Homo sapiens: one gene and its partners. The protein of the gene in region 5 purifies or fractionates together with the protein of the main gene of each other region. This does not show direct contact. Each region holds a gene or a part of one and is shown on either strand. Other genes may lie near its edges. The genes, in order: LIN54, FAM114A2, PDGFB, DIMT1 and PDAP1.

Region 1 (6,059 bases), on a different chromosome or scaffold from region 5:
TTTGAACATAATTATGATCCATATTGCCAAAGCCAAATAAACTTTGGTAAACCAATAAAAACAAGCTTCAAAACTGAGGACAAGATGCTTGATGGTGATAAGATATCTCATCCAAGAGATTCTTGGCAAAAATAAGAAGTAAAAGGAAGTCATAGATAAGTGAGAAGTAATAATGAACAAGAAAGAGCACTAAATGTTTAATAATGGCAAAGGGGACAGAGGCAAATTATAAGATTTAAGAAATTCTACAAAGTTCTTAAATGCAAAGCCCATGAAAAGTGGTTTCTAATTCTACTGTCAAAACAGTAACCAAAACATTACTCTAATATCAGCTGAGTGTAGTCTCCCAAAACCTTCCTACTTCCTTCTTATGCATTTCCTATTATTTCTATGCATTCAAAGACAACTCTTTCAAACAGAGGATACATTTTTGTTTCCTGGTCATAAGTATATCACTGCATTTCTTGTTTTTTTTTTTTTTTTTGAGATGGAGTTTCGCTCTTGTCACCCAGGCTGGAGTGCAATGGCGCGATCTCGGCTCACTGCAACCTCTGCCTCCCGGGTTCAACCGATTCTCCTGTCTCAGCCTCCTGAGTAGCTGGGATTATAGGCACTCGCCACCATGCCTGGCTAATTTTTTGTATTTTTAGTAGAGATGAGGTTTCACCATGTTGGGCAGGCTAGTCTCAAACTCCTGACCTCAGGTGATCCGCCCACCTCAGCCTGCCAAAGTGCTGGGTGGGATTACAGGCTTAAGCCACCACGCCCCGCCGATCACTGCATTTCCAAGAGTAGTGGTGGCCTAAGAAAGCCTATTTGGGCATGATAAACTGGAAATCACTTAATATATATTCCAGTAACCTTCTTTCTTAGGGTCCTATTCATACTAATAATAGGTACCATTATGAAACATCCTCAATATTTTGAGAATTATACTACACATTTCATCTTGATCAAAAAGTATTCTTAAGATAAAGTCAAAAACTCAGAGAAGATAAGTAACCTACGAAAGTTTTCCATAACTGGTAGGATAAGATAGAGGCAACTCAAGCCCAGTTGGTACAACTCTAAAGCCTGTATGTTATCTTCCATCACATGTCACTGTCTTTTCCATAGTACAAACATGAATAATGGCAATGAACAGTAAACTCCAAATAAAAGGCACACGCTGGCTGACACGCACTATTACTGGCTCTGAGGGTTTCTCAGAGCAACAAAGTTCTCCTAGCCTTTGGCCATCTGTGAACTGAAAAAAAAAAATGTTGTCTACATGATTTTTTTGATAGCCCAGCAGCAAGTCTGGCATATTTATACCAGCAAAACATCCTTGTAATCAAACTACCACTAAGAATAAAATGCATTTTAAAATTAGTAAAAGGCTATAAATATACTAATTTGGAATTTAACCAAAATTAAGTTTGCTTTCTAAGTTATCTGGTAAAAATTTTCATAAGCATTAGACATATCAAACTTAAAAACACACACACACAATTACATAAAACAACATTCAAAAGAATTCAGTAACAACTATGTATTTAGTAACCCTATAAACACAACTATGAATCAGTTAAATTTTTTTAAACATGCATTTTAATTAGTAAGCCCCCTTTTTTCTTTTACCTGTACTGTTTTTAACTGTTGGGTCTGTAACACAGAGGGCTGAGTTGTAGTATTAATCAGTTGACTTCCTGGGGTCAATGCTGAGACACCAATGACAGGTTTCACCTCTGGCCTCCCTCCAATGGTAACTACTTTAATTTGCTGCGGTGGTAACTTAGCATCTCCTGACTGGGCCTGAGTTGTAACTTTCTGAGCCTGGGGTAGTTGGCTATGGGGTAGTGCTAAAACAATTGGTGAACCAGACTTGCCCAAAGTTGTTAAAATTAACTTCTGTCCATCTGGTTTAAGGGTCTGATTGCCAAGTTTAAGATCAGATGTCTGTGATACTTTGTTTAAAATAATCTGATTGGCTGATATAGTCACAGGAGTCTGAGCACCAAGTTTTTGAAGGCCACTTGGAAAAGCTGGTTTCACTGTGGTATTAGAATCTGCTTTAGTAATTGTGGTATTCACTGCAACTTGGTTAGTGTGGTTACTGTACACTGTGATTGGTTCCGTGGAAATGGGCGTGGCTGTAGAGTCACCAGTAGAATTTATGTTGACAATTTCTTCCAGTTCTGTCTCCATGGGAATTGGGGATGAAACAATAACAGCCTCAATACTATCATCATCCACTAAAGTTATACCAGTGTCCATTATTTCCTCTGGAAGCAAACTATTCACCTCAGCTGGCACCACCTCCATGATCGTTCTCCCGCTAGAAAGTTGATCAGGCACTGTAATAAAAGTTGAAAAATGAACAAGTTACTAGGTTTCAAAAGATGTAAGAAAAAAATTCAAAAAAAATGCAAATGGCAAAATGACAATTTTTAAATTGATATATAATTGAATGAAGAATATTCCTGAAGCTTATCTGGGTTAAATCATGTTAACACATCCTCAACCTGCAAGAATCTATAATATAAGTCATATGGGAACACAAAACTAGAAGCAAACATTCTTACTCTCGTCTCAATCCACAAGTATCTTGCACTCAGGCAACACTAAGTCACATAATCACATGAAACTCCTTTCCAACGCCCTCTAATAAAATTTGTAATCTTTGATGTATCTGATCTTATTTCTACCCAGATTTTTTTCCTCTCATTGACAGACTTGAAAACTGCTGATTCACACAAGGAAATAAAGATTTAAATATTAACATATTGTAAAATACATTCAAATCTCCAATGAGCTACGTCCTAATATGAGTGTACTATCCCATTTTAAAAATCCATTAAATACCCAAATTAAAGTTAAAGGAGTTTCTAGAGTAATACATCTCAGCAATTGCAGATCAAATAGCATTTGTGGTACAACTTTGACCAACTAGCTTCATACCAGGGAAATTTTTATTTGGAAAGAAGATTCTCAAACCCTCCTTGGCCATTTACTTACTTACTTAATTAATTAATTATTGAGACGGAGTCTCACTCTGTTGCCAAGGCTGAAGTGCAGTGGCACAATCTCAGCTCACTGCAACCTCCGCTTCCTGGGTTCAAGCAATTCTCCTGCCTCAGCCTCCTGAGTAGCTGGAATTACAGGCGCCTGCCACCAAGCCGGGCTAATTTTTGTACTTTTAGTAGAGACAGGGTTTTGCCATGTTGGCCAGGCTGGTCTCGAACTCCTAACCTCGGGTGATCCACCTGCCTCGGCCTCCCAAAGTACTGGGATTACAGGCGTGAGCCACCGTGCCTGGCCATCCTCCGCCATTTAAAGTGTCAAAAAGAACCATTTAAGAGATGTACAGCCAATCCCCATGAAGAAAAAAAGTAATAATCATAAAGCAGATTACGAAAAACTTTGAGCTGTGGTACTTTTAGCCAAAGGTCTGTAGAACTTCCAATAAAGGAATCAATTTTATTATCTTCATGTATAAAAGACAGCACATCATGTTTATGACAGACTAAATAGCAGTGAGTTATTTGCCCAGAGAACATCAAAGATCCATAGGAACCAAATCAGCAACTTTCTTCTCTTCCTTTTCGTTTTTGAGACAGAGTCTCGCTCTTGTTACCCAGGCTGGAGTGCAGTGGCGCAATCTCGGCTCACCGCAACCTCCACCTCCCAGGTTCAAGCGATTCTCCTGCCTCAGCCTCCCAAGTAGCTGGGATTACAGGCATGTGCCACCACGCCCAGCTAATTTTTTGTATTTTTAGTAGAGACAAGGTTTCTCCATGTTGGTCAGGCTGGTCTCAAACTCCCAACCTCAGGTGATCTGCCCACGCTGGCCTCCCAAAGTGCTGGGATTATAGGTGTGAGCCACCATGCCCGGCCCCCTTTTTTTAAATATAAAAATACACCACCCCGGCTGGGCATTCTGGCAGATCACGAGGTAGGCAGATCACAAGGTCAAGAGATGGAGACGATCCTGGCCAACATGGTGAAACCCCGTCTCAACTAAAAATACAAAAATTAGCTGGGCATGGTGGCATGCACCTATAGTCCCAGCTACTCAGGAGGCTGAGGCAGAAGAATCACTTGAACCTGGGAGGCAGAGGTTGCAATGAGCCGAGATCGTGCCACTGCACTTGAGCCGGGCGACAGAGCGAGACCCCATCTCAAAAAAAAAAAAAAAAAAAAAAAAGATACAACACCCATCCAAAATTAACACACAAGTAGCAAATTACAACTATTAGCATTGGCAAATACTACTACCACCAAAATAAACCATCATTATTGAGTGCTTACAACACTGATGACGTAATTTAATTTATCCTCACAACAACTCAGAAATGGGAATCATCATTATCCCTGTTTTATAGATGAGGCCATTTAGAAAGGTTAATTTGCCTAAGGTCACATAGCTAGTAAATGGTAGAGCCAGGACTCCAGCTCAGGTTTTTAATATGCCACAGTTAATTATCTTGGCTGGGCACACTGGCTCTTACCTGTAATCCCAGCACTTTGGGAGGCCGAGGTGGGCAGATCACCTGAGGTCAGGTGTTCGAGACCAGCCTGGCCAACATGGCAAAACCCCATCTCTACTAAAAATACAAAAATTAGCTAGGCGTGGTGGTGGGTGCTTGTAATTCCAGCTACTCAGAAGGCTGAAGCACAATAATCGCTTGAAGCCGGGAGGCGGAGGTTGCAGTGAGCCAAGATCGTGCCACTGCACTCCAGCCTGGGCAACAGAGTGAGACTTTGTCTCAAAAATTTTTTTAAAAAGATGCCACAGTTAATAACCTTAATCCCAAAATTATACTCCCTTAAATGTTGCCATTGGTGTTTTAAAACAGGGAAAAAATAAGTCTACTTTTCTAAGAAAAAAACAAAAAACAAAAAACAAACGGGATACATGTGCAGAACATGCAGGTTTGTTACACAGGTATACGTGTGCCATGGTGGTTTGCTACACCTGTTGACCCCACCTCTAAGTTCCCTCCCCTTGACCCCAACCCCCCACCAGAACATAATGTGTGTTGTTCCCCTCTCTGTGTCCATGTGTTCTCAATTCTTCAACTCCCACTTATAAGTGAGAACATGCAGTGTTTGGTTTTCTGTTCCTGTGTTAGTTTGCTGAGAATGATGGCTTCCAGTTTCATCCATGTCTCTGCAGAGGACATGATCTCATTCCTTTTTATGGCTGCATAGTATTCCATGGTGTATAAGTGCCAAATTTTATTTATCCAGTCTATCACTGATGGGCATTTGGGTTGGTTCCATGTCTTTGCTATTGTAAATAGTGCTGCAATAAACATATGTGTGCATGTGTCTTTATAGTAGAATGATTTATATTCCTTTGGGTACATACCCAGTAATGGGACTGATGGGCCAAATGGTATTTCTGGTTCTATATCCTTGAGGAATCACCATACTGTCTTCCACCGTGGTTGAACTAATTCACATTGTCATGAACAATGTAAAAGCATTCCTATTTCTCCACAGCCTTGCCAGCATCTATTGTTTCCTGACTTTTTAATAATCGCCACTCTGACTGGCATGAGATGGTATCTCATTGTGATTTTCATTTACATTTCTCTGATGATCAATGATGTTGAGCTTTTTTTCATGTTTTTTTGGCCACATAAATGTTTCTTTTGAGAAGTGGGTCTGTTCTATCACTAAAGATTATTTGTCTTTTTGCTCATTCCAGAACTTCATTTAAATTGAATAATATATTATGTACTTATGACATAAAGCAATCATATGGTATGAGTTTTTTCTCTCAGCATGCTTTTGAGATTTATCTTTATCGTTTTACTTATTAGTAGTTCTATTCCTTTTTACTGCTGAGTAATATTCCATTGTACAAATTGACCACAATTTGTATATGCATTCATCTGTTAATGGACATTTGGACTGTTTCCAGTTTGGAACTATGATGAATAATTCTGCTATAAACTGCTATAAATACTTAGGTTCAAGTTTTTTCAGAAAATACGTTTTTCATTTCTTTTGAGTAAATATCTAGAAGATCTGGCAATTCCTTCTAGGTGAATCACATGGTAAGTTTATTT
Region 2 (6,822 bases), on a different chromosome or scaffold from region 5:
AAAGGATCTGGGTTTCCTGAAGTTAATCTTACAAGGCCAAATCTTTCTGTGTGTTCCATAAAGATACTTTAAGCCAGCATATCAACTATAAGATGCTGACACATACAAGTATTAAATTTACATTATTTATTTGTAAGATTTTTCTAAACAGCTTGTGTTAAAGACCCTTGAGTTTTTTGAGCACATGTTCCATATCTACATGTTTTGTTTTAAAATGGTTCTAAGGTTTTGTGGTCAAATGAAGATACTTTTTAAAGTCAATAAAAAGGTATAAAACAATACACTGTCAATATGGATAGCACAGAAAGATATTAAGAAAGAAGTTTAAAACACTTAGAATTTCCATTCTAAAGATGACATTTTGCTCTCAGTCCAGACTTCTGTGCTTATATTTAATATTTATGTATGGGTGTGTGTGTGTGTTTTAAAGTGTGATCGTACTCCACTTACTGTTATTTAACCTACTCTGCTCACTTAAAAATGTATTCGTTATTCCAGGTCAAAGAAATGGCAGATGTCCTTAACCCATTAATCACTGCAGTATTTCTAGAGGTTAGTAATTGTTTTTAAGTCTCTGACTCCAAAGGTATTACGTATAATTAACTCTTCTGAAGCCTTTTGCTTTTGGCTTTTTTATTTTATTCACCATATTGGTAGTTTAGCCATATTGATGTAGATATGACAGAAATAGTGTATATTTGATGTGTATTCCTTCCTTATTAATTAGAAAGCATACAGTTGAAGCTGCAGGGTACTGGAAGAAGCAGTAGATTGTCATTACTTAGTACTAATCCTTGACAGCTTAATGGACGGTTCACAGTAATGAAACACCTTCTGAATACCAGCTGGTAAACATGAAGGGCTGAAAATTATAAACAGGTAAGCACTGCTTCCTAATTTAGGACTAAAGTTTATGCAGAGGTTTGTTACAAAACAAAACATGTTGTCATTTCCTTGCCAGGAAATCATGCTTTGTTTTGTCAGAAAGGTAGTGTTTACATTATCCTCATCATTCCATTAGATTTGAGAAGGTAGATGGTTTAAGTCAATGGAAAAGAGGATCCTGTGACTGATTATATTACCTCCCTATGTGATGTTTTCTGGATTCCATGTTTTAAGAACTCTACCTTGTAAACTAACTGTGCAGACAACATAGACTTTTTGATGATTTGTTTAAAACATGTTTATGTAAGTCTGGGGGGAGAAAATATATTTGATAGTTAAGTTTTAGATGTTAATTGAAAAAATGTTTTAACTACCAAACTCTTACTTCTCTAGTTTTAAATTCTTTTGACATTACCATCAAGGAAATGATTTTAATTCTTTAATTACACAGTTTTAATCAAGTAGTCAGGGAAACTATTTTGATCATTGTAATAATTTTTAAAAATATAAGTTTGTGATTTAGTAAATGGCAGAGTGGTGCAGTAGAAAAGACTTTGTAAACCAGGAGCCCCGTGTTGCCCTGGATCTTCCTTGATTTGTTGTGTGACTCTGACAAACTTCGTTATTTTCATGTGCAACATAAGAGATTTAACTAGACGATATCTGAGGTCCCTTTTGTGTGGGAAATTGAGTATTAAATGTCACACTGAATTTTAAATAGTACTTGCCATTGATAAATTTTAAAAAGGTAATATCACTTGATATGGGCTCCCTATTATTTTTAGTGGATTTTTTTTTTGGATACAGATTTGAAACACTCTTGTCTTCGAAATTATACATTTTTATCTTAATGAGCTCTCTGTTGATATTCTTTTGAAAGGTGAGGGCTTTTCAGTATAAATGAAGTCCAGCAAACTGAGGGTAATGATTCTCTAACACTTCTGAAAAATGTTGTTCAAGATAGAAATATATCTATACTGTCATCTTTGAAAGCAGTATATGTGTGAAAGATGTTTATGTGTGTGAGCAGTTATTGTGCTCACTGATCGCATTGAGTCCATGGAAAAAGAGCTATCATAATGGGCTAGAAATTCTATAGGTGTAGGATTTATAGCCTTCTGAAAGCCTCTTTCAGTAATTGACCACAATATTGTGACAGAATCTACCCTACTCAATAAAGGAATAAATAAGCTTTGAATGCCAAGTCTGACCATGTTGCCAAAGAAAAGCTACCATGTCTGATGGGCAAGTTGTACAAAATGCTGACATTCTCTTTTGGTGCTCATATCATCTTAAGAGCTAAATTCTTCTCCCTATAATAGAGTTTACCAAAATGGCCAAGTCACTGCTCTTACTTGCCAGGCTATGAATTCAGTTAGATTACAAAAATTAATCTGTTCCCCTGTTGCCTTACAGTATATCTTCTCTTTTAAATAACTAATATTTTCTTTTTCTTGTTTTTTCAATCCTGGCAGGCATCAAACAGTGCCTCCTACATCCAGGACGCCTTTCAGCTACTCTTACCTGTGCTAGAGATCTCTCTCATTGAGAACAAGATTGAATCACACAGACATGAGCTGCAGGGCCAGAAACCTTTGTTAGAACATTGAAGAATGGAGACGTTTTGACCTGGGACTTGTGACGGCCAAGGAATGCCACCTTATTCTGGCTACTCCTGCAGAAATGAAGGAGTGGGGTTATTTTAGTATATAAAAATTCAGGCAGGAGAGATGGTTTAAAGAGGAAGATTGTTGCCTTCAGTGTTTGATTGAAGTATTCAGGTTCTCACAGTATTCTTTCCAGTTGTTGTAATTCATAAATTATTTGAAAAGAAACTTTTGTAGAAAGTCCAAGAATAATAACTCTAGATAAAGATTAGTGGGACACTCAGGCAAAAATGTTGGTCTTTCTTTGACATGTTGCAAAATGTTATCAATTTTGTCATGGATATAATTTGCAGCCCATGGATATAACTGGTTGATAAGCCAGAGAAAAATAATTTAGTGTTCTAAAATTCATGGCATGTGTGGTTTATTAATGCCATGTACTTTCTCCTTTCTGGAATAAAATCTATGGCTTTAAGAAAACTGAGCATATGTAAACTCTGTGATGATTACCCTTTATCACATGAATTCTTGGAAATAGAAAGTTTCATCTGCTTTTTTAAATTCTTAGTAGATATTTGGCATTGAGGAGAAACTTGTAGACTATTATAGCCATGTGAATTAACTGTAGCAAAGTGCCCTTTTTCTTCAAATTGCTCCCCCTCCCCAGGATGACACACTTCATGTCATAGCTGAACCCTACTCTACTGGATTCAAGGCCAGTAAATGCAATTTAGAGAAGCAGTTTTATGTTTGCAGATATTCTGAGTCTCTTCAGGATGTGTTTCGTGTCTACCATATATGCAGGATAAATTCTTTAACAGCAAACTCCAAAGGAATGTTGAAGCTGTTTTAGCAATGAGGATTTTTTTGTTTGAGTGTTGAAGTGGGCCATAGTCCTTTAGAAATGATGTTCATTTATGATAGGATTTAACTTCTAAGGCATAGTTTATTTTTTCCTCTTTCCTTTTTGTTTGTTTTAATGTATTCTTTAGCATGTTTTTGATATAACTTTTATCCTCCAGATCTTAAGCTTTCTTTTGCTCTCTTCAGCAATTTAAGAGACTATTAAGCTGTCGTCTTCCTAAAAGCTATTTTGGTATCCACTCTTTTTAAAAAAATTCTCCAACTTTGTGGTTTTTTAATGATTAAGGTAATTTGTTAGCTCTGCCCCTCATCTTCTAAAACCTTTGTAATAAAATGTATTAATCATGTTATTTGATCCTTTCATTTACTTTTGTAAACACGAGCCCTAATATCTTACTTAGACCAAAAAAAAAAAAAAAAAATAGCAAAGCAAAGCCATAACATAGATTAGTATAAAGACTGTTTCTACGTAATCTTCTTTGGGGCAGGAGTCAGTTAGTAAGCAAGGAAGAGAAATAAATTTGGTTTAAAAAGGTATACCAACAGCACTACAATGTTACTCTGCCTATATTCTGTCTTAATATGATCAGAAAGTTTTTGAATATTCCTTTTTAAAGACAAATTTCACCCTTTCCAGCTTGAATATTTCTGAAGTTTCAGAAAAACAGTTGCCTTCTGGTTACAAAGGCTGGTGTCACCAGTTCTGAATTGTTGCCTCAAGCTTGGTTGATGTGTCTGAACCTGTATCCCTTGAGGGCAAAGTTTAGAAACTGGTCACTCTGCCTACTGTCTGTTCAGCCTCTTGTACAATGGCAGTTTGGCAGCTTTAAATCCTTAACCTAGAAATGTATTTAAGGTTTTTCTTTCAAGAAATGGGGTATACATATGAAGGAGAGAGTAACAACTCTTTTTATACACCTATTCAGATTTCAGCCCTGAATTTGGCAAATTTTAGATTAGGTCTCACATAAGGTAAATATGACTCACTAACTCTTTTTTTCTCATCTTCCCCACCCCCCCATATATATTTATTTATTTTAATGGAGTTAGGGACCACTAGTGAAATGATGAAAGGCCCAATTCTGAGTAACAATTGTCTACTCTTCACATAAAATATACTGAAAAAGAATTAAGATTCCTTGATCCAGTAGACATAGAGAAACATAAACATTCATGACAGATGAGTAGGTAAATTCAGGGATCACTTTGGAACTTGCTGGATTATGGTGATGGTTTTTGGATAGTATGTGCTTCATTATTTTATTTGGGGTAGTTACAGTGTTTTAGTTTTTTGTTAACAGCTACACTTTTGGTACTATTTTCCTTTTAAATTTTTGGTGTCTAAGATTTACCACTAATTACTAATATATGCCTTTCCAATTCACTTAAAACCTTAATAAGTGAAATGTTCAGGTATTGCTAGGGTAAATGTGTCTTTTCCTACTATTGAGATTTTAAAAGGCTGTGATTAAGAGAGACTTTATTAATTTGATCTGAAAGAAGTAGAAACCTCTATGAAACAATTTTTATTTTCCTTTGCATAATACCTTAGAAATGTGTTAAGGACAAGCTATATTTTCCTTACTTGCTTTTGATAGTTTTTTTTTTTTTTTTTAAGCATAGATATCCAGGTTGGCAGGCCTCTGAAATGTGAAATTGTAATTTTTATAGATGGCATTACTATGAATCTGAAATCAGTGCTAGGTGTACAAATGTGAATTTTTCAATCCTGTAATCAAAGAACAAGATCTTGTGGGTTCCTACTGCTGAAAAAGGATGCTTTCTTTTGTACTTGTTTTTAGTGAAAGACCTTTTTGAGGGAGAGCTATTTTATAGGTAGTTGCTATTGATATCTCCATTTGAGAAATAGACATTTTTCTGTATTTCTAGAGGTGTTCTGAATTTTAAACCTGAATTCTTCAGTTTAGAAAACCCAGAATAAAATTATACCCACAGTGGGCACTCAACAAGTGTGATATTTCACAAATGTCAGAGACTGAGCTGTTTTATTATCTCTTTGTGTGTGTGTGTGTGTGTGTGTGTGTGTGTGATGGAGTTTCACTCTTGTTGCCCAGGCTGGAGTGCAGTGGCGTGATCTCGGCTCACCGCAACCTCTGCCTCCTGGGTTCAAGTGATTGTCCTGCCTCAGCCTCCCGAGTAGCTGGGATTACAGGTGTGTGCCACCACACCTGGCTAATTTTGTATTTTTAGTAGAGACAGGGTTTTTCCATGTTGGTCAGGCTGGTCTGGAACTTCTGACCTCAGATGATGCCACCTGCCTCGGCCTCCCAAAGTGCTGGGATTACAGGCGTGAGCCACTGTGCCTGGCCCTTTTATTATTTCTTAACAACACATGATATCTCTTTTCATAAAAGACTTAAAAAGCATTTGAGAAATGAGAAAGTTCTAAAAATAATAAGCCTCTTAGTTAACATGTCATAAAGGCCTCTGGCAACTGTATGAAGAGAATTTTGAAAACTTGCCCACTGGTCTGACTCTCTGAGTATATCCTTGATGTTCCTCAAACACTAGTTCATTCGGTCCTCCCTACTTAACTTGAAGCCCATCCTTCCCTGTTACTGTATCGTCCAGCCAAATCCCAAAGGCCCTTCATGTTTAATTATCATTTCCCCAGGCAAGTCCTAAAGACAATTTTTTTAAAAATCTGAATATTCTCTCAACTCATTTGTCCTTTGAGCTAAAAGCAAAGAAAGATTCATTATAGCTGTCACTTCACCCTCACAAGTCAATGTTGAACTTACCAGACATTTAAGTGTCTGACTGGCCTACCCTTATAAGAACAGATACAGAAACTGCAAATTGAGTGAAACCATCATCTATTTCTACTTGTGTCAGTCCCACATTTGTCTCTTTCTGTATACATTAGCCATTCTGTGCTCTCAAGTGAGTTATAAAGCTGTTCTGTATAGTGGAAATAGGTGATCAAAGTATGGTTTCACAAATCACATAGGTTATTTCCATAGAGAATGTTGTAGCTTCACAATGCTTAAAGAGGGGGAGAATAATGAGCACAAACCTCACAGGGAATATACTGTATAGAAGAGGTATGTTAACCATATAGTAAGTGAGTTCCAAAATTATTAAAAGTCTAGTTGCTCAATTAGGATAGGAGCAGACCTCTGTGGAGAGTAAGTCTAGTTAATGTTTGAGATACACCTTTCTACAAGTGGTTTTAGGTGGAAGCTGGGTTGACCACAGTGGAGACACATGCGACAGGTGAGGTCCCTCTAGGGCCAGTCTTCAGAGATTAGCATGAAGGCTACAGGGTGTCATCCTGTCACAGGATGACAGAGCACAGAGTCTGAGCTCTCTGTGTTTGGAGAGGTGGCTGACGAGTGTAGCTCTGCCTAAGCTCTCCTGGTGTCTGTTAAACTCTTGAGTGTATATGTATTTTTGAAGTCCAGTAGTTGAGGTCGGTAACTTGGTAATTCGCATATGGGGAGTC
Region 3 (6,059 bases), on a different chromosome or scaffold from region 5:
CCCAGCGTTCCCATAGGAAGTGCTGAATGGAGAAATTCCCAGAAGCCCCAGGGGGACCGCATGCCCTGAACACAGCCCCTCTGGAGCCCCGGACAATGGCCGCGCTGGGCAGGCGGGAGCCACGGAGGGAGGGAGGGAGGGAGAGGGATGGGGGTGGGAGCTGAAGACAGAGAAGAGGAGAAGAGGGGTGGGAGTTGGGCCTGCTGGGGGTGGGGAGTCCCTGCCACACACCCTTCTAGGGCCTGGTCTCTCTAGCTCCGGGGCCCTCACACCGTATCTGTATCTGTGTCTGTCTCCCTCCCCTTCTCTAAACTGTTGCCCCACCTCTGCCCCCAGCCGTCTGTTGATTCCTCTGGTCACAAATGACAGCTCCCTTTTCTAGCCTGGGCACCATCTCAGTCCCATCAGCCCTCCTTGGAGACATCGGTCCTTTCCAGAGCCCATGGCCAGAGGTTGGCTGCTGGGAAGTGAGGGCTGAGGGAGGCCTCTGAGCTGGATGTTAAGGCGTGGACAGACCCTTCTGTCTCTCTCATGGGTGAGGAGCCACAAATAAACTAAGGGGCATTGGGAACACGCTCCTGCCACCTCCACACAGCACCCCATGGCTCCAGTTCTGGCACCGACCCACTGGCCCCATCCAAGACAAAGGCGCCTGCCGCCTGTCCGTCCCGGGTACTGCAGGGAGTCTGATGACTAGTCCGCTTCCGTCCAGCCTGACAGCCCCTACGTCAACGAGCCTATCTGTCCCTCTGGCTCCTTTCCTTTCTCCCTGCCATCTCTGGAATGTCCCTGGTGGGGAGGAGATGGGGAAAAGATGCGCTTTGTGGAAAGGTTAAGTTGATTAGGAAAAAATAGCCACATGGTTGCCTTGAAACAGGCCTGCTATTGAAACCTCATCTCCAAGATCCCGACCCCCACCAGGGGTGTGGAGGGGCCGTCTGAGGGTGGGGGTGTAAAGGCTTGGAAAGAAATGGTAGAAAGGCTAAATTTGGAAGTTGCCCCATTGTGTGTGGCCAGGGGCGGCCAGTCGGGCATAGGGTGGGGGTTGTGGGAGACATCGGGTGGGGGCCCTGGCGAACAATAGGTGGGCCCAGCTGGGGCCCCCTCCTGCCTGCCTCACCGCCCCCCAGCACAGGCGGGATTGAAAGGGCCCGGGAATGCTTTTGAGAGGGAGCCAGGGGCCCAACGGGGAGAGGAAACAAAGGCAGGAAATGCTGTTCCCCCGTAGATAGCGTCTGGGCAAGGATTACAAAGTGACAAAGAGACAGAACCCCAGAGGGAAGGGGACCTGGGGGTGCAGGGGGGCTGCTGACCAGGGCTCCAGGGAACAGGCCAGAGGTTAGAATAGAATGGAATTTGCTCTGAAGACAGCGTTTATAAATACATTGTCAATCCAGCCCGCCAGCCCCGCCACGTGTGTGCCACCGAGCACGTGCCCATTCGCTGAGTGAGCTCTGGGGCACGGGCAGGGCTGCCTGCTGGTCGAGGCCAGGTGTCCCCAGGGGACCTCACAGACCGGGCCCCTAGCCAGAGGGGCGGGGAGATGACTCCTCCAGTGCCACCCTCCCTGGCTGGGCCCACACCTGGAGACATACTCGGCAGATGCCCTGGGCACCTTCTCCCCGCCCTCCCTCCTCCTGGCACCCCACCCTTGGCACCAAGCCGGAGCCACACGTGGGTGCTTCTCCTGCCACACCCCAAGTCCCAGGTACCAACCCGCCTGCTGACTCGGCCCTGCCCTGGATGGGTGTGGCCACGCTCTCTCTGGGCTGCCATGGGCCTCTAGTTCTCCAGACGTCAAGAAGGAGGGATGCCTCCTGTCCTGCCCCTCCCAGATCTCTTAAAGTCTCCTCGGAGGGCCGGAGCGCGGGGCGAGGATTCCATTTACCTCCGGGGTCTCCGTGCAGCAGGCGTTGGAGATCATCAAAGGAGCGGATCGAGTGGTCACTCAGCATCTCATAAAGCTCCTCGGGAATGGGGTCCCCCTGCCGGGCAGACACCAAAAGGCTGAGTGAGCTGGGAGTGGGGGCTTTCCAGCATGGCTGTCTCCCCCACCACACGCTTTCTCGCTTTCTCCTGTGGAAAGCTCCAAGGTCACAGGGAGACGGACAGGCAGGATCCAGGCCTGATGATCAGGAGCACAAAGGCCTCGGGGCCTGGACCTGCCGAAGCCTCTGAGACCCAGCTCAGTCCCTGCACCCTCAACCCCCAACAGGAACCCCAGCTTGCTTTGAGTTGGACCTGCTTGTCTCTATGTCTGTCTCCCCCACCAAACTACATGTTCTGGGAATGCACCAAAATCTGATTTCTCCCTGAGTCTCACAACACACCTGACAGCTGAAGACAGCCAGCATCTCCCATGGCCAATCTAACCCCCATTTTACAGAGGGGAAAACAAACGTTCAAAGAGAGGCTCAATTATTGGCAAAAGCTGCATTCAAACCCATGCCTTTGGGATGACAGAGCCTGTACTCCCAGGCTCCTGGGTACAAGAGGTGCTTAATAAACGCGTGCAGAGTGCGATGGCCTCAGGAGGCCCCAGGTCCTAGCGGTATCTATGAAGTCTCTCACTCGAAAGAGGCGAAAAGGGAATCCTCGGACACGGCCGGGAAACCTGAAAGCTTACCCGTGCCCTGTGCCCAACCAAACCCTATTTTTAGAGCCCCTTTGGCCTGTTGCCAAACATACTCGAAACCTGATAACACTTCAACAGGCCTCATTCGGAGCTGGGCTTCCTCCAGGGAAACCGCAGGTCCCACAATGACACAAGAGCAGCCCCGTAGGAAGGTCACAGCCACGTCCCCCACAGTCCCAGGAGACCCAAGGGGCGGATGCCAGAGATCCCAAGAAAGAGGCGAGGGCAGATGGGAGACTGAGAATCACAATCCAGACCACCAGCCACTGAGAAGCAAAGAAAATTCCTAAGATGTCGCTGCACGTTCAAAGGCTGGAACCGGACTTCCACGTGTGCAAACACACACGTGCAGGCACAGGCACTCGGGCTGCACGGTCTGGACAGACAGTCCTGGAGAGGGCATCAATAGGCTTGGCACATTACTATAGAACCTTGGGTTAAACTATTTTCTGCCTCAGTTTCCCTGGATTAAGAAGGGAGGACTTCCCTTCTTGGTTCGCTCCACATTCCCGGAGCCGAAGGTCGGGGGGCTCAGAGGGGGTCGGTGCAGGCTACCTTCACAAAAGGGATGCTGCTTTCTCGCTGCCTGACGGCGGAGGGGGAGCGAGGGAGAGGAGAAGAGGTCGTCTCAGCCCTGTGGCCAGCCTCAGGGGGCTCTCCCCGAAAGCTCTGTTTCCTCCAGCTTATCATGAGGTCTAGCAACACCTCCAGGGGTTCATCCATGACCAACTCTGGCCACCCACATCGATCCAGGAGCCAGAAGACTCAGGGCGGGGGGTGGGGGTGACCACTTTTAAAGCTACATCATTCCCTGAAACCCCTGAGTCTCCATGTCTTTGTTTGAACATGGAGCTTACAACTCCGCCCAATGTCTAAGGGCTGCTGGGCAACTTGAGGAAAAAAAGGTGGCAGGGCTTGGCTGAGAACTAGGGTCTTTCCTTCAATATCCGGGCAGCCAGGGGCTGCACGTGCAAGACAGAGGAGGGTATGGGCCCCGCTGCCCCTCACTTTCGGCCCCATCTCCTCCGGGCTCTGCCTCCTCCCGCCCTCAAGCAAGTTCATTCTTTCCACCTCAGAAGAGAGACCACGCCTCCGGTGCTCTCCAAATGTTGACAAAGTACCCAACCCACAGAACAGAGGGCTTGGTCTCCAGTGAACACCAGCGAAAGCCGCTTCCCCTGAGAGTTCTGTCAAACCCAGAACTGGCAGGCCAGAGAGCTGAATCCCACGCCTTTGGACCAACTGCCGTGTGACCTCGGCTGGTCACTGCCCCTATGGTCCTGGCTCTCATCTGTGAATCGAGGGGCTTGAAGAACATTCGATTCAATTCTAATTCTGCCAGGAGGCGTTAGAAGGGGCAGAGAAAACGCCAAAGCCGGGTGCCTAGCCAGGCCTCCCTGGATCACTGGCAGAAGGAGAACAAGAAGCGTTTGTGGAGTAAAGATTCAATTAACCCCCCAGGGGAGGGGCCCAAAGGCCTAGTAGCAAATGGCATTTAGTGCTTGTGCCAAGATCTCCCTGCCCACTGGAGAGCCGGCTGCAGCTGCCAGCCACGGCAGAGGAGGCAGACCCCTGAACAGGCCGAGTGGACACCCCAGATCCAGGCCCACGACACATAGGAGATGCCCCTCCAAGGCTGAGTGTGAAAGAGCCCAGGATAGGGTCTGAGGAGGAGAGAGAGGCACATAGTAGGTCCTCGGTAAATACTGGTCAAATGCATGAAGGAGTCTACCATTTTCCAGGTTCTGTCCAGTATGATTCTTCTGCCTCCTCCACCAGGAGGGCCACCTGGGATATTCTTCCCCAACCCTAGGCAAATGAGCAACTAGAGTCCCTTTTAATCTGAGCAGGGAGACCGTCCCTGAAGATGCTTTTGGTAATGTGGCCACTAGATGCCCAGAACTACCCATAAGCCCCCGGATTTGGTAATAATACCACAACTAACATCTATGAATGCCAGCTACAAGCCACACGCTGAGAAAAACACCGTATAAACTACCAATCCTAAGAGGCTGGCAGTATTTGTATCCCCATCCTCCAGATGAGAACACTGAAGCTTAGAAAAAATTAAACAAGCAGCAACAGGTCCAGACAATTAGCAAGTGGCAGAGCTGGGTCGTTCCCAGGCTCCAGACTGCCCACCTGTTCCAGCCCACCATGGGGCGTCTCAGCCTCCCTCTCCTGTGTTCTAAGGCCACTGGCCCTCAGCATCACACAAGGTTCGTGTTGGCTCTTTACTCTGCAGCATGTCCCACGTCAGAGGCTCTCAACCAGGGCCCAGTGGGCCCCCAGGGGACAGTGGCAATGTATGAAGGCATCGCTGGTGGCCACAACTTGGGGTGTGCACTGCATCTTAAGTTGGGGGAGGCCGGGGATGCCGCTCACCACCCTTCAGGGCACAGGACGGCCTTCCCAAACATCAGGAGTGCAGAGGCTGAGAAACCCTGTAGCGGAGGAAAGAGCAAGGGCTCCAGATGCCAGGGCAACCTGGATTCTTGGAATCTTGTCACAATCTAAAACCTCGGCTTCTGCATCTTTTAAATGGGGCTAATAATACCTCGCCCGGGGTTACTGGGAGGCATAATTGCACAGAGCAGAGCTGCCAGCAGATAATGGGAGCTTAATGAGTTGTCACTGTCATCATCATTAATTCTTTCCGGATGGCTCCTTTGTGGGCAGCAGCGAGTGGCACACGTGCTCAGGGCCAGCAGCACAGGACATTTTTGAGGATGACAAGGAGTGGGTGGAGAGCTGCCTGCCCATGAAAGAGTGCGTGACTTTGCATTATCCCTTGTGCTGGGCCACAGGAAATGGTACCCTACCTCCACACTGGCAGAGCCTGGGCCGTGTGGGCTTACAAGGCCCTTCCGGGGCTGGGGGTGGGTGAGGGTGGGGGGACACTCAGCACGTGCTCAGCTCCAGGATGCAATGCTCTGGGGATGACGAGCATGAGCACCTGTTGGGAGTCACAGGCTCTTCTTGGTATGGGAAGGTGAGCCGCCCGGAGCCTGGTTTTCCTGGGCACAGGTTCCGCAGGCCTCCAGGTGGACAGCTCACTTCAGAGATGGGAAAGGAGGCCTGGCACCCTGAAGAAGCTGTCCCAAGATCTCAGGCCCGGGGTTTCTGGCAGAGTGAGGGCGTGGCGAGGAGGCAGCTGGGGCAAAGCCAGCCGTGGGAGCCAAGGTAAACAGCCTCCTCCGACCCCGCCCCCAGCGCCAGCTGCAGCAGGTAGGAAGGGCACGAGCGAGCGTGAGGCCAGGTGAGTGATCTGCTCCCAACCAGGCTGGCAGATCAAAGGGGCTTGAACCCCACCCTCCTCCTGGGCCCAGCACACACACACAGATACACACTCCCCGGCCCGCCTGCCATTCCCACCAAGGGACACACAGGCCCAAGCAACCAGGGGCGTTGTCTGTGGCTGGCA
Region 4 (6,059 bases), on a different chromosome or scaffold from region 5:
TAGAATTAAAGTGCATTTCAATCTCATGAAACAACATTCTTTTTACATTTCTTCTTTTCTCATCAGGCCTGTGGCCAGCAAACTTCAAGTACTGGTGGGTGATGTGCTGAAAACAGATTTGCCATTCTTTGATACTTGTGTGGCAAATTTGCCTTATCAGGTATGTCCTCACATTTTCAGGAACATCATACTAACTGTTCCTCTGATGTGTCTTTCCCGGAAATAACTAGTTAATTCTCTTACAGATCTCTTCACCTTTTGTCTTCAAGCTGTTGCTACATCGACCTTTTTTCAGGTTTGTGACAAAAGACTAGAGTTACTGCCAAATTTTGAAAGACTTACAGTTCAGGTGGTGAACATAGCCAAAAATGAGTCAGGTCAGTTGAAAAACTACTGAAGAATTTTTGTAGAAAATGTTGATTTGTATGGAGGTCTTTCTCTCTTTAATTGAGAGGTTATTTGGGGGTAGTGTGCTGGAAGTCCTGCTTCTGAGACCAGACAGCCTTTCCCTATTTTTGAATCTTCCTGCCGTTAAGTCTAGGTTAGAATTTTTATTACCTTATGTCTAGACAATTGCAGTGGTTTCCTAACTGGTCTCTAGTATAAGAGGTCTTCAAAAAGTTCATGGAAAATGTGTATTATGAAAAAAACTTGCATGGATTTCAAAATTTTTTTGCACCAAAATAAACTCTGTACTAACTGAGCAGGATCTAGTGTGAGGCACTGAGAAGGATAAGACATCAGTTTGAAAAGAGCCCCTATCAGAGCAACATGAACTCTGCTAAAATTCAAGTAAGAACAAACATCCAATTTATGGTGAAACCTGGTTGGAAGAATGGTGAAATCATTGATGCTTTACAAAAAGTTTATGGAGTCACACCTGTAATCCCAGCACTTTGGGAGGCCAAGGCAGGCGGATCATGAGGTCAGGAGATCGAGACCATCCTGGCTAACATGGTGAAACCCCACATCTACTAAAAATACAAAAAACTAGCCGGGCGTAGTGGCGGGCGCCTGTAGTCCCAGCCACTCGGGAGGCTGAGGCAGGAGAATGGCGTGAACCCGGGAGGCGGAGCTTGCAGTGAGCCGAGATCGCGCCACTGCACTCCAGCCTTGGCGACTGAGCGAGACTCCGTCTCAAAAAAAAAAAAAAGTTTATGGGGACAATATCCCAAAGAAATCAGCAGTTTACTAATGGATAACTCATTTTAAGAAGGGCTGAGACAATGTTGAAGATGAAGCCTACAGTGGCACACTGGCCATATCAATTTGTGGGAAAACATTCATCTTGTTTGTTCCCTAAGTGACGAGGAACAACATTCAACAGCACAAACAATAGCCAACACCATAGACATCACAGTTGGTTTAGCTTACACAATTCTGACTGCAAAATCAAAGTTAAACAAACTTTGTACTTGATAGATGCCAAAACTGTCATACCCTCTTTTCTGAAAGATTTTATGAAAAAACAAAACAAAAAACATTGTACTCAAATCAGCTGCAGATAAAAGCAGAGCTTCCAGTGGAAATTTTACATAACTGGGATCAAGATCCTGAAACATGGCTGGGTGGAGTGGCTCACACCTATAATCCTAGCACTCTGGGAGGCCGAGGCGGGCAGATCACTTGAGGTCAGGAGACCAGCCTGGCTAACATGGTGAAACCCCATCTCTACTAAAAATAAAAAAATTAGCTGGGCATTGTGGTGGGCACCTATAATCCCAGCTACTCGGGAGGCTGAGGCAGGGGAATCGCTTGAACTCAGGAGGCGGAGGTTGTAGTGAGCCAAGATTGTGCCACTGCACTCCACACTCCAGCCTGGGCAACAGAGCGAGATTGTCAAAAAAGAAAACAAGATCCTGAAACATTTCTTCAAAGAATTACAAAGAATTGTAATGGAGATGAAATATGGCTTTACCAGTGTGATCCTAAAGACAAAGCAGAGTGAAAGTGATGCCTACCAAGAAACGGAGTGGCTCCAGTCAAAGCAAAAGCAGACCAGTCAAGAGCAAAGGTCATAGCAACAGTTTTTTTTTGAATGCTCAGGGCATTTTGCTTGCTGACTTTCTTTAGGACCAAAGAATGAAAACATCTGCTTATTACAAGAGTGTTTTGAGAAAGTTAGCTAAGATGTAGCAGAGTAACTCCTGGGAAAGCTTCCCCAGAGATTCCTCCACCATAATACTTCTACTCCTTCCTCTCATCAGACGAGGGCAATTTTTCGAGAGTTTCAATGGGAAATGGTTAGGTATCCACCTTACAGTCCTGATTGGGCCCCTTCTGACTTCTTTTTATTTTATGAGACAGTCTTGCTCTGGTGCCCGGGCTGGAGAGCAGTGGTATGATCTGCACTCACTGCAGCCTCCACTTCCTGGGCTCAAGCATTCCTCCCACCTCAGCCTCCCAAGTAGCTGCGATTACGGGCATGTGCCACCACACCCAGCTAATTGTTGTATTTTTTTTAGAGATGGGTCTTGCCATGTTGCCCAGGCTGTCTCCCCCTCCTGAGCTCAAGTGATCTGCCCACCTCAGCCTCCCCAAATGCTGGGATTATTACAGGCATGAACCATGGTGCCCAGCCCTTCTGATTTATTTTCGTTTCCCAGTCTTAAAAAATCTTGAAAGGGCACTCTTTTTTCTTCAGTTAATAATGTAAAAAAAAAAAACCTGCAGTGACATGGCTAAATTCCCCAGAGCCTCAGTTTTTTTGATATAGACTAAAATGCTGGTATCATCACTTACAAAAGTGTCTTGAACTTGATGGAGCTTATGTTGAATAATAAAGTTTATGTTTTTTCTTTTTTTTCTTTTTCTGAGACAGGCTGGAGTACAGTGGTGACATCTCAGGTCACTGCAACCTCAGCCTCCCTGGGCTGGGCTCAGATGATTCTCCTACCTCAGCCTCTTGAGTAGCTGGGACTATGGGGGTGTACCAGCATGCCTAGCTAATTTTTGTGTTTTTTTTAGAGAAGGGGTCTCACCATGTTCAGCCCAGGCTGGTCTTGAACTCCTGAGCTCAAGCGATCTGTCCGCCTTGGCCTCCTAAAGTGCTGTGGATTATAGGTGTGTGCCGCCACACCAGCCTTATTTTATCTTTTAATTCAATATTTCCATGAACTTTGAAGTCACTTTCTATATTATATACTAGTGGCTTTCAAACTGCAAGTCAAAAACTAGTGGTTATAAAATTAATGAGTCATGACCATTCTTTTTTTTTGTAATCACATGGAATAGAATATATCACAGGGCATTGCATGTAGTCCAGGTGATTATGGTTTCATGAAACTTTTGTTTTGAAATACAATATAAACACATATACATACAGACATTTGTGGCTTGGCTTGCAATGCCAAATGTATTTTTAGTGTGACTCATTGTCAAAAGTTTGAATGTCAAAGTGTAGCTTTGAAGATACTCTTCTGTTCGTTAACCCCTACAAAGTCTTCCCCATTGCCTGCTGAATAAAAAGTCTACATCTTTTGGCTGGGTGTGGTGACTCATGCCTGTAATCCCAGCACTTTGGGAGGCTGAGGTGGGCGGATCACCTGAGGTCAGGAGTTCCAGACCAGCCTGGCCAACATGGTGAAACACTGTCTCTACTAAAAATAGAAAAATTGGCCAGGGGTGGTAGTGTGCGCCTGTAATCCCAGCTACTCGGGAGGCTGAGGAACGAGGATCACTTGAACCTGGGAGACGGAAGTTGTAGTGAGCCGAGATTGCGCCATTGCACTCCAGCCTGGGCGACAAGAGCGAAACTCCGTCTCAAAAAAAAAAAAAAAGTCTACATCTTTTAACCCGTCAAATCAAGGAAACATTGAACGTCACAATCTGCCTCTTCAGTCTCACCTCTTCCTTAAAGGTGTTTGCTACCCCATAAATATATTACTGCTACTGAAACAATTTTATTTCACTTTGTTTTCATAGAAGAGGTGATGGACTAGTGCTGATTTGAAACATCTCATCCAGTCATTAAAGGCTTATATTTGCAAGCTATCTTGCCATGAGGAGTACAGCAATTATAAAAACAAAGCCAGCTCTCTCATTCTGTGGCAATAAAAAAAAGGCTGAATGTGTTCTCCTACCTTATAATCAGCTGCCAATGCTTTGCTATTTCTCTCCCAAGAAAATTCATTGCAGTTAAAATTCATTTATAGTTGACAATGACCATTTTCCTTATTCCTTTCTGCTTTCTTTTCAGGTGTGCTATACTTATGTTTCAAAGAGAATTTGCCCTCCGACTGGTTGCAAAACCTGGAGATAAGTTATACTGCAGACTCTCAATTAATACACAGCTGTTGGCACGTGTGGACCATCTAATGAAAGTAAGTGAATTTTGTTTTCTTTCTCTTTTTTCTGAGATAGAATCTCACTCTGTCACCCAGGCTGCAGTGCAGTGGCTCACTGCGATCTCTGCCTCCCATACTCAAGCAATCTTCTCGAGTCCCGAGTAGCTGGGACTAGAGGTGTGCGTCACCACGCCTGACTAATTTTTTGGTATTTTTTGTAGACACAGAGTTTTGCTATGTTGCCCAGGTTGGTCTTGAACTCCTGGGCTCAATGATCCATCTGCCTTGGCCTCCCAAAGTGTTGGGATTACAGGTGTGAGCCAAAGCACCCAGCCAGTGATTTTTATTATTGAAATAATCTAGCTTAATTCATCCTTGAGCATCCAGTTGTGCCTTCTGTGAGGATAGCATATCTGGTTACTAAATAAAAGTTGCCTTTGTGAGTACTACTTAAATACTTTTTCATTAACAGGTGGGAAAGAATAACTTCAGACCACCGCCCAAGGTGGAATCCAGTGTTGTAAGGATAGAACCTAAGAATCCACCACCACCCATCAATTTTCAGGTGAGGTTAAAATACTAGCTCATTCAATAAAGGAAAAAAAAGTCCAGGCGGGAAGATGTGTGCCTATAACAGCAGAAAAATATTGAATCAACCTAAATATTCAAACATAGGAAAATGTTAATTAGGACACATCCCTGTGCTGAAGTAGATGGAATAATTTGATGCAAGGTAGTTTTGAAGTGAGACCCAGTCTCAAAAAAAAAAAAGAAAAAATGGAATAAAACTAGGAAAACAAGGTAAAATGAAAATAGTTGTTTTAAAGTAGTATTATGGGTAACATCTTTTCATTGTAATTGTTTTTTGAGATTTAAAAACAAGAAAGAAGACCACTTGATATAAAACCTTACTACAGCCACATTAGAGAAAAACGTGATTGTGTGTGTGGTCAACTGGTGGTAAATGGAGTGGTTTGTCAATAACTCCTTCAAGGAGGTTTAGGTGTGTTACACAGGAAGTATCTGAAGTCATGTCTGTTTTGAATCTTATTTTTGAAAATGATACTTAGATTTAAATAAACGCCATGTTCTTTGTTCAGATGTGGGACCATTTTGTTTTTCCTTCCCTTTCTTTTTTTAAGATGGGGTTTCACTATGTTGCCTAGGCTGGACTTGAACTTTTGGTCTCAAGCGATCCTCCCACCTCAGCCTCCTGAGTAGCTGGTACTACAGGCATGCAGCACTGTGCCTGGCTTTATTTTTTCAAATTAAAAAAAAAAATTGTCATGCTTTGTCAAAAAAAAATTCTGAGGAAAAGACATATTCAGTGAAATGCGCCAAAGTGCAAAAATCAAATGTATGTCTTACTTTTGCATGTGTGTGCCAGCCAGATCAAGATTACAGAACATTTTCTTCACTTCAGAAAGTTTCCTTCAATTGTATATATTAAAAGACAAAATAATACCTAGTGGGCATAGACAAGAACAAGAAGTTTGTAATTTGAAGAAAATGTCTATCTTCTATTTCAGGAATGGGATGGTCTAGTAAGGATAACCTTTGTTAGGAAAAACAAGACACTCTCTGCTGCATTTAAGTAAGTATTACACTAATTTCTAATGTATAAAGGGCCAGTGCTCCAGATACTATGCTAGAATTTGGTCCTTTTCCTGAGCAGCTACCCTAAAGCATAAAGATTATGGGTCCAGACAAACTTCACCTTTTAAACTATCTTTAGAGCTTGGGAGGCTCTAAAGCAAACTTAATGAAGAAAGT
Region 5 (6,059 bases):
CCTGATTCTTCTTGCAAAAAGCGCTGGGCTGGAATCCCCAGGGCAGGGTGGGCCAAGTGTGTGCTGTCATGACTAATTCCAATTCCCACCCACCTTAGCTGATGGACTGGACTTGTAACCCAAGAATAAGCTACTGGATCACACACTCTACAGGTTTGGGACGCTGGCCCAAAAACCTGGAATCTGCACCTTCCACCTCCCCTGCAGAAGTTCCAGAAGAAGGGGGTGTGTTCTCAATGCAGCAGGTTTGGTCAAAGTTTCAGGCCCTGTCAATTCCATCAATTCTCCTTAAGGGGGCAGGGAGACAGCTTCCACTCCACAGAGCTCCCTCCACACACTTCCAGTCCAGCTGCACACTTACACCTCCACTCAGATGCCTGGCACTGTAAACTTAACATGTCCAAGACAGAACTCGAGATTCATCCTTTACCCAACCGGACCCTCCCTGCAATCCTAAGCATATCCTTGATTCGTCGTTCCTTCAGCAACCCCCAAATACAGCTTAAATTTGTCCACTCTTCTCCACTGCCATTGTCACCATCCTAGGGCAAGCCACGATTTTTTTTCTTTTGAGACAGAGTTTCCCTCTTCTTGCCCAGGCTGGAGGGCAATGGCACAATCTCGGCTCACCACAACCTCGGTCTCCTGGGTTCAAGCAATTCTCCTGCCTCAGCCTGAGTATTTGGGATTACAGGCATGAACCACCACCCCCGACTAATTTTGTATTTTTAGTAGAGACAGGTTTTCTCCATGTTGGTCAGGCTGGTCTCGAAATCTCGACCTCAGGTGATCCGCCCGCCTTGGCCTCCCAAAGTGCTGGGATTACAGGTGTGAGCCACCACACCCGGCCCAGGATTTCTGATCTGAACACTGCTCTTACTCTCAACATCCTATCATTCACTCTCCATGAAGAAGCTAAAATAATCTTTTTTTTTTTTTTTTGAGACGGAGTCTCACTCTGTCGCCCAGGCTGGAGTGCAGTGGCATAGTCTTGGCTCACTGCACTCCGCCTCCCGGGTTCACGCCATTCTCCTGCCTCAGCCTCCCAAGTAGCTGGGACTACAGGCGCCTGCCACCACACCTGGCTAATTTTTGTATTTTTAGTAGAGACGGGGTTTCACTGTGTTAGCCAGGATGGTCTCGATCTCCTGACCTTGTGATCCACCCACCTTGGCTTCCCAAAGTAAAATAATCTTTTAAAAGCATATCTGGAGGCTGGGCGCAGTGGCTCACGCCTGTAATCCCAGCCCTTTGAGAGGCCAAGGCAGGCAGATCACGAGGTCAGGAGATTGAGACCATCCTGGCTGACATGGTGAAACGCTACCTCTACGGTAGTCCCAGCTATTCGGAAGGCTGAGGCAGAAGAATGGCCTGAACCCGGGAGGCGGAGCTTGCAGTGAGCCGAGATCGCACCACTGCACTCCAGCCTGGGCGACAGAGAGACTCCATCTCCCAAAAAAAAAAAAAAAAAAAAGCATATCTGGTCATGTCTCTCAATCCCTTCAAGGCCTCCCCCAGCTGCCACTACCTACCATAAAGAAACCCCATGCCAGGCATGGTGGCTCATGCTGCTGCAATCTCAACACCTCAGGAGGGTGAAGTGGGAGGATTACTTGAGCCCAGGAGTTGGAGACCACCTGGGCAATATAGTGAGATCCCTATCTCTACAAAAAATTTAAAAATTAGGTAGATGTGGTGGCGTGTGCCTTTGGTCCCAGCTACTTGGAAGGCTGAGGCTGCGGTGCTTCACTGCAGCTTCACTCCACTCCAGCCTGGGTGACAGAACGAGACCCTGTCTCAAAAAAAAAAAAAAAAAAAAAAAAAGGGGGCTGGGCTAGTGGCTCACGCTTATAATCCCAGTACTTTGGGAGGCTGATGCGGGTGGATCACGAGGTCAGGAGATGGAGACCATTCTGGCTAACACAGTGAAACCCTGTCTCTACTAAAAATACAAAAAATTAGCCCGGCGTGGTGGCAGGCGCCTGTAGTCCCAGCTACTCAGGAGGCTGGGGCAGAAGCGCTTGAACCTGGGAGGCGGAAGTTGCAGTGAGCTGAGATCGTGCCACTGCACTCCAGCCTCAGTGACAAAGCGACACTTCATCTCAAAAAAAAAAAAAAAAAAGAAAAGAAAAGAAAAGAAATGCCAACCCCTTCAACAGCTACACAGGAGGTGCCCTTGCCAATTCTCCTCCTGCATCTGGACCACTCCGCTCCTTACCCACTAACTCACAGCTACACTGGCCCCCTTCTGGTCCTTGAACATGCCAAGCTTATTCCCACCACAGGACCTTTGCACTTGCTAATCCAGTTTCTCAATTGCTCTGCACGCCAATTTTCACATAGCTGGCTGCATCTTGTTTTTTCAGATCTCAGTTTATAAGTTGCTTCACCACCACAACACTTTTCCAAGTCCCCTCAATCACAGTCTGTTTTGTTAGTAACACTTCTCATTACTTGAAATGACACTGTCTGTTTACTTCTTTGTTGTATCTCCCGTAGTGTAAACCCTCAAGAGCAAGGACGTTGTCTGCATCTACCTTTGGGACTAGTACTAAACGGTCACTCAACGTTTGTTTGTTGAATGAATGAGTCCAGGCTCTAGGCCCTCAAAAGAACTCAGTACCTGGTAGTCATCTTCTTCATCCTCACTCTCATCTGAGTCTAGAGATTTCTTCTCCTTTTTGGGGTCACCTGCAGCCCCATCTCCACCTTCTTTTTGCTCCTCTTCTTCCTGTTTCAGAAATGGACAACCTGCAGAATCAAAAATGCAAAACAAATCCCCAAGACTGTGACCCTATCACCCCCCAGACTGTGGATCTTGAGAAATCAAGCCTCTGGAAGGCTGGAACCAAGGATGACAAGGGTCCTACTGTGACCCTGGCCCCCAGGGAATGGGACCTGGGCCAGACACAGGCAGCCTATGCACTTAGCACCACAGCTTAGAGGCCATTCCCATAGTCCAGGAAGCCCCTCACACAGCCACAGAAGGCCCTGCTCCCCTTCCTAACGCAGCCACCTCAGCAGCCAGGGTGAGAAGCTTGTTTCCTGGGGTCAGAAGGACTCAGCCACCAGGCTGAAAACCACCATCCTACTCAGCTCCCACCTGCCACATGCAGCTGCCAAATCATGCTGGCATTCCCAGGCGAGTCCTCTCCGCACTCCACTCCCACTCCATGGCAAGTCATCCCCCCGACCCACCCACACAGGTGACCTCCTGCACCAGCTCCCCAGAACAACACCTCGGAAGGCTGCTTCCCTCCACCTTTCTTGCCTTCCCACCAAAAATGTCCCTTATAGGAACCTCATGTCCCTTCACCTCTTGGCACCTGCCCACACATTCTCCATGTCCTGCTCAGCTGCTGGCTCCCCCAAGGACCCCTCCCAGACCCCACAGCTGGATGTGGCCTTTCCCTTCTTGAGACTCCTGGGGTACGTCACAGCTGTGTACCCATCTGGCCCTGACTGCTCCCTTAGGCCCTTGATCCAGGCATCAATCTAATGATATGGTAAGATGCAGATGCTGACGATGGGAATGTATTCTATTTCCTAACGGTGGCCTGGACAATGTACTATGGGAGCAGAGGAGAGGGAACTACTAAATCAGCTCTGGCTGGAGGTGAGGCATGAGTCACAGAGGAGGAGAGGCTAAACAACGTCTCCAGGGATGGAGAGCATGCTGATGCTGGGGGTGTGGGAAGGCAGGGCATATGTCATGTGCAGTGTGGCAAATCATCCTGTGTGGCTGCAGCAGACAAGCAGGGGTGCTGGGAGCTCGAGCTGTGAATGGACAGGTCCTGCAGGAGGGAGATCCTCCTGAAAGTAGGTGCACAAGACCAAGAACAGGGCCCCACTAAAGCAGCTGCTGCAGAGCAGCCACAGTTCTTTCTAACCCATCCAGGCAGAGGATGCCCACGCCCTGACTGTCATTGGTTGTTCTGAGACTCACACCTGGGGCTCACTGCCCGCCCGACCCCCACGTGCTGGCTTGTCCCTGCGAATGGGTAGTCCTTGCCTGGCCTCTCTATGAACCAAATTGGCAAAGCGCCACCCTGGGCCACTGGCGTGGCCTGGACAGGCACGTACTCACCCTGGCCTTCTGCTTCTCAGCCTGCAGCTGCGCGTCGATCTCCTCAGGGCTTGTATACTGCCTCGCCCGGCCTTTGTGGCCTCCCTTTCTTCCTGCAGAGACCCGCAGTTTAGGTGAGCGGAAGCAGCTGCCTTGACTGCTCTGACCCCCAGAGGGCTGTGTCCTGCTTGGAGTACTCTCATCGGAGGCCTCACCTACCCCTCACCCAGCACCACCCAAACCGACACCTCCGCCACCCTCATGTGTTCAAAGGCACGCAGGAAGCAACTCGTGACCATCTGATGCATCACCAAACTGTGTACTAAATGCTGGCTCCTACACAGAAGACCGGAGGGGAGAACATGGCGGACGGTGCACTGCAATGACTTGCTACATCCCCTGGTCCCTTACAATCCAAGCATAGTGGACTCAGATGCAACCACAGAAACATGTACCACTTACATCCCTGCCGTCACTATAAGGGCTTTTTACACGATGTTCTGTCACAGCCAGGGGCACTTTTTTTTTTTTTTTTTTGAGACGGAGTCTCGCTCTGTCACCCAAGCTGGAGTGCAGTGGCGCAATCTCGGCTCACCGCAACCTCCACCACCCTGGTTGAAGTGATTCTCCTGCCTCAGCCTCCCGAGTAGCTGGGACTACAGGCGTGCACCACTATGCCCAGCTTATTTATTTATTTTTAGTAGAGATGGGGTTTAACCATGTTGGTTGGCTAGAATGGTCTTGATCTCTTGACCTCGTGATCTGCCCACCTCAGCCTCCCAAAGTGCTGGGATTACAGGTGTGAGCCACCGCGCCCAGCCAGCCAGGGGCACAGTTGATCCTCGGAACAAACCTATGGTACAGGGGTGATAGCTGGTCCCATTTCATAGACCAGGAGACTTAGACCAAAGCAGACTGCGAAACACCACGAAGTTTAGAGTCCAACTCCCAGGTTCTACGCTTACTGGCTTGATGACTTTGGGCAGGTATTTAACCTCTCAGTCTCAGTTTCCTCATCTGTGTCCCTACCTTACAGGGTTGTCACAAAGATAGATGAATTAATCAATATACAGAAAGCTGCTGGAACAGTGCCTGCTACTGAATAAGCACTACAAAAATGTTCGCTAATATCCAGGCACAGTGGCTGATGCCTGTAATCCCAGCACTTTGGGAGGCCAAGGCGGGCAGATCACTTGAGGCCAGTTCAAGACCAGCCTGGTCAACATGGTGAAACCCCCTCACTACTAAAAATACAAAAATTAGCTGGGCATGGTGTCACATGTTTGTAATCCCAGCTACTTGGGAGGCTGAGAAAGGAGAATCGCTTGAACCCAGGAGGCAGAGGTTGCAGTAGCCGAGATTGAGCCACTGCACTCCAGCCTGGGCCACAGAGCGAGACTCCGTCTCAAAAAAATAAAAAAATCGCTGTTCGTTACTTTTCCCTCTAATCTAGTATTTGGTGGAAAAACAACAACAAAAGCACCACTGAGCACATAAGCAATTTACTGCAGATGTTGGAAACACAATAAAATACCTTGTGTTCACCTTAGTAGTATGGCAAAAAGAGAATACTTAAGGGAAAAAAAAGAAACCCAAACCTACAGGCAAAAACTTTGTGCTTAGACTAAGAAATGACTGGCAAAGTACAGATGAAAACAAACCTGACTACACAGTCTAAAAGTTAAAAATGTGACTAGCAGTTAAAGTGTCAGTTTTATAGTCTGACCCTCTTCAGCCAGAACACCAGGCTGACCCTTGCTTAAGCCATCAGCCAGTTTTAAAGCAAGGTGGCATCCCCCTCTGCTGGTCCCCAAGTATGCAAGGGTGGCTGTGGCCTCAACTTCCACACAGGAAGCTGAGGCCCACCTGATTTCCATAGTCTGTCTCTGTGAGCAGAGACTCTGTAATCAGCCAGAGTTGCTCTGCACTCCAGAGGCGGTAGCAGAGATACTGGCCTCCTCTGATTCCTTACAGCAGCTGCAAAGCCATAATT

What was found.
Region 1: the proteins of PDAP1 (region 5) and LIN54 purify together in Homo sapiens (co-immunoprecipitation; one large-scale study listed by IntAct). This does not show direct contact.
Region 2: the proteins of PDAP1 (region 5) and FAM114A2 fractionate together in Homo sapiens (co-fractionation; one large-scale study listed by BioGRID). This does not show direct contact.
Region 3: the proteins of PDAP1 (region 5) and PDGFB purify together in Homo sapiens (co-purification; one study listed by BioGRID). This does not show direct contact.
Region 4: the proteins of PDAP1 (region 5) and DIMT1 purify together in Homo sapiens (affinity purification with mass spectrometry; one large-scale study listed by BioGRID and IntAct). This does not show direct contact.

Annotation. Positions count from the first base shown.
Region 1 is NC_000004.12:82,982,541-82,988,599, forward strand, and holds part of LIN54 (protein lin-54 homolog), read right to left. Parts: intron 2,337-6,059; 5' UTR 2,305-2,336; coding exon 1,621-2,304; intron 1-1,620. UniProt on the Homo sapiens protein: Component of the DREAM complex, a multiprotein complex that can both act as a transcription activator or repressor depending on the context. In G0 phase, the complex binds to more than 800 promoters and is required for repression of E2F target genes.
Region 2 is NC_000005.10:153,988,649-153,995,470, reverse strand, and holds the end of FAM114A2 (protein FAM114A2), read left to right. Parts: intron 1-498; coding exon 499-552; intron 553-2,360; coding exon 2,361-2,495; 3' UTR 2,496-5,323; downstream 5,324-6,822.
Region 3 is NC_000022.11:39,233,890-39,239,948, forward strand, and holds part of PDGFB (platelet-derived growth factor subunit B isoform 1 preproprotein), read right to left. Parts: intron 1,986-6,059; coding exon 1,889-1,985; intron 1-1,888. UniProt on the Homo sapiens protein: Growth factor that plays an essential role in the regulation of embryonic development, cell proliferation, cell migration, survival and chemotaxis. Potent mitogen for cells of mesenchymal origin.
Region 4 is NC_000005.10:62,392,747-62,398,805, reverse strand, and holds part of DIMT1 (dimethyladenosine transferase), read left to right. Parts: intron 1-66; coding exon 67-160; intron 161-245; coding exon 246-295; exon of another isoform or gene 296-377; intron 378-4,198; coding exon 4,199-4,322; intron 4,323-4,758; coding exon 4,759-4,851; intron 4,852-5,815; coding exon 5,816-5,880; intron 5,881-6,059. UniProt on the Homo sapiens protein: Specifically dimethylates two adjacent adenosines in the loop of a conserved hairpin near the 3'-end of 18S rRNA in the 40S particle.
Region 5 is NC_000007.14:99,400,775-99,406,833, forward strand, and holds part of PDAP1 (28 kDa heat- and acid-stable phosphoprotein), read right to left. Parts: intron 4,180-6,059; coding exon 4,088-4,179; intron 2,732-4,087; coding exon 2,624-2,731; intron 1-2,623. UniProt on the Homo sapiens protein: Enhances PDGFA-stimulated cell growth in fibroblasts, but inhibits the mitogenic effect of PDGFB.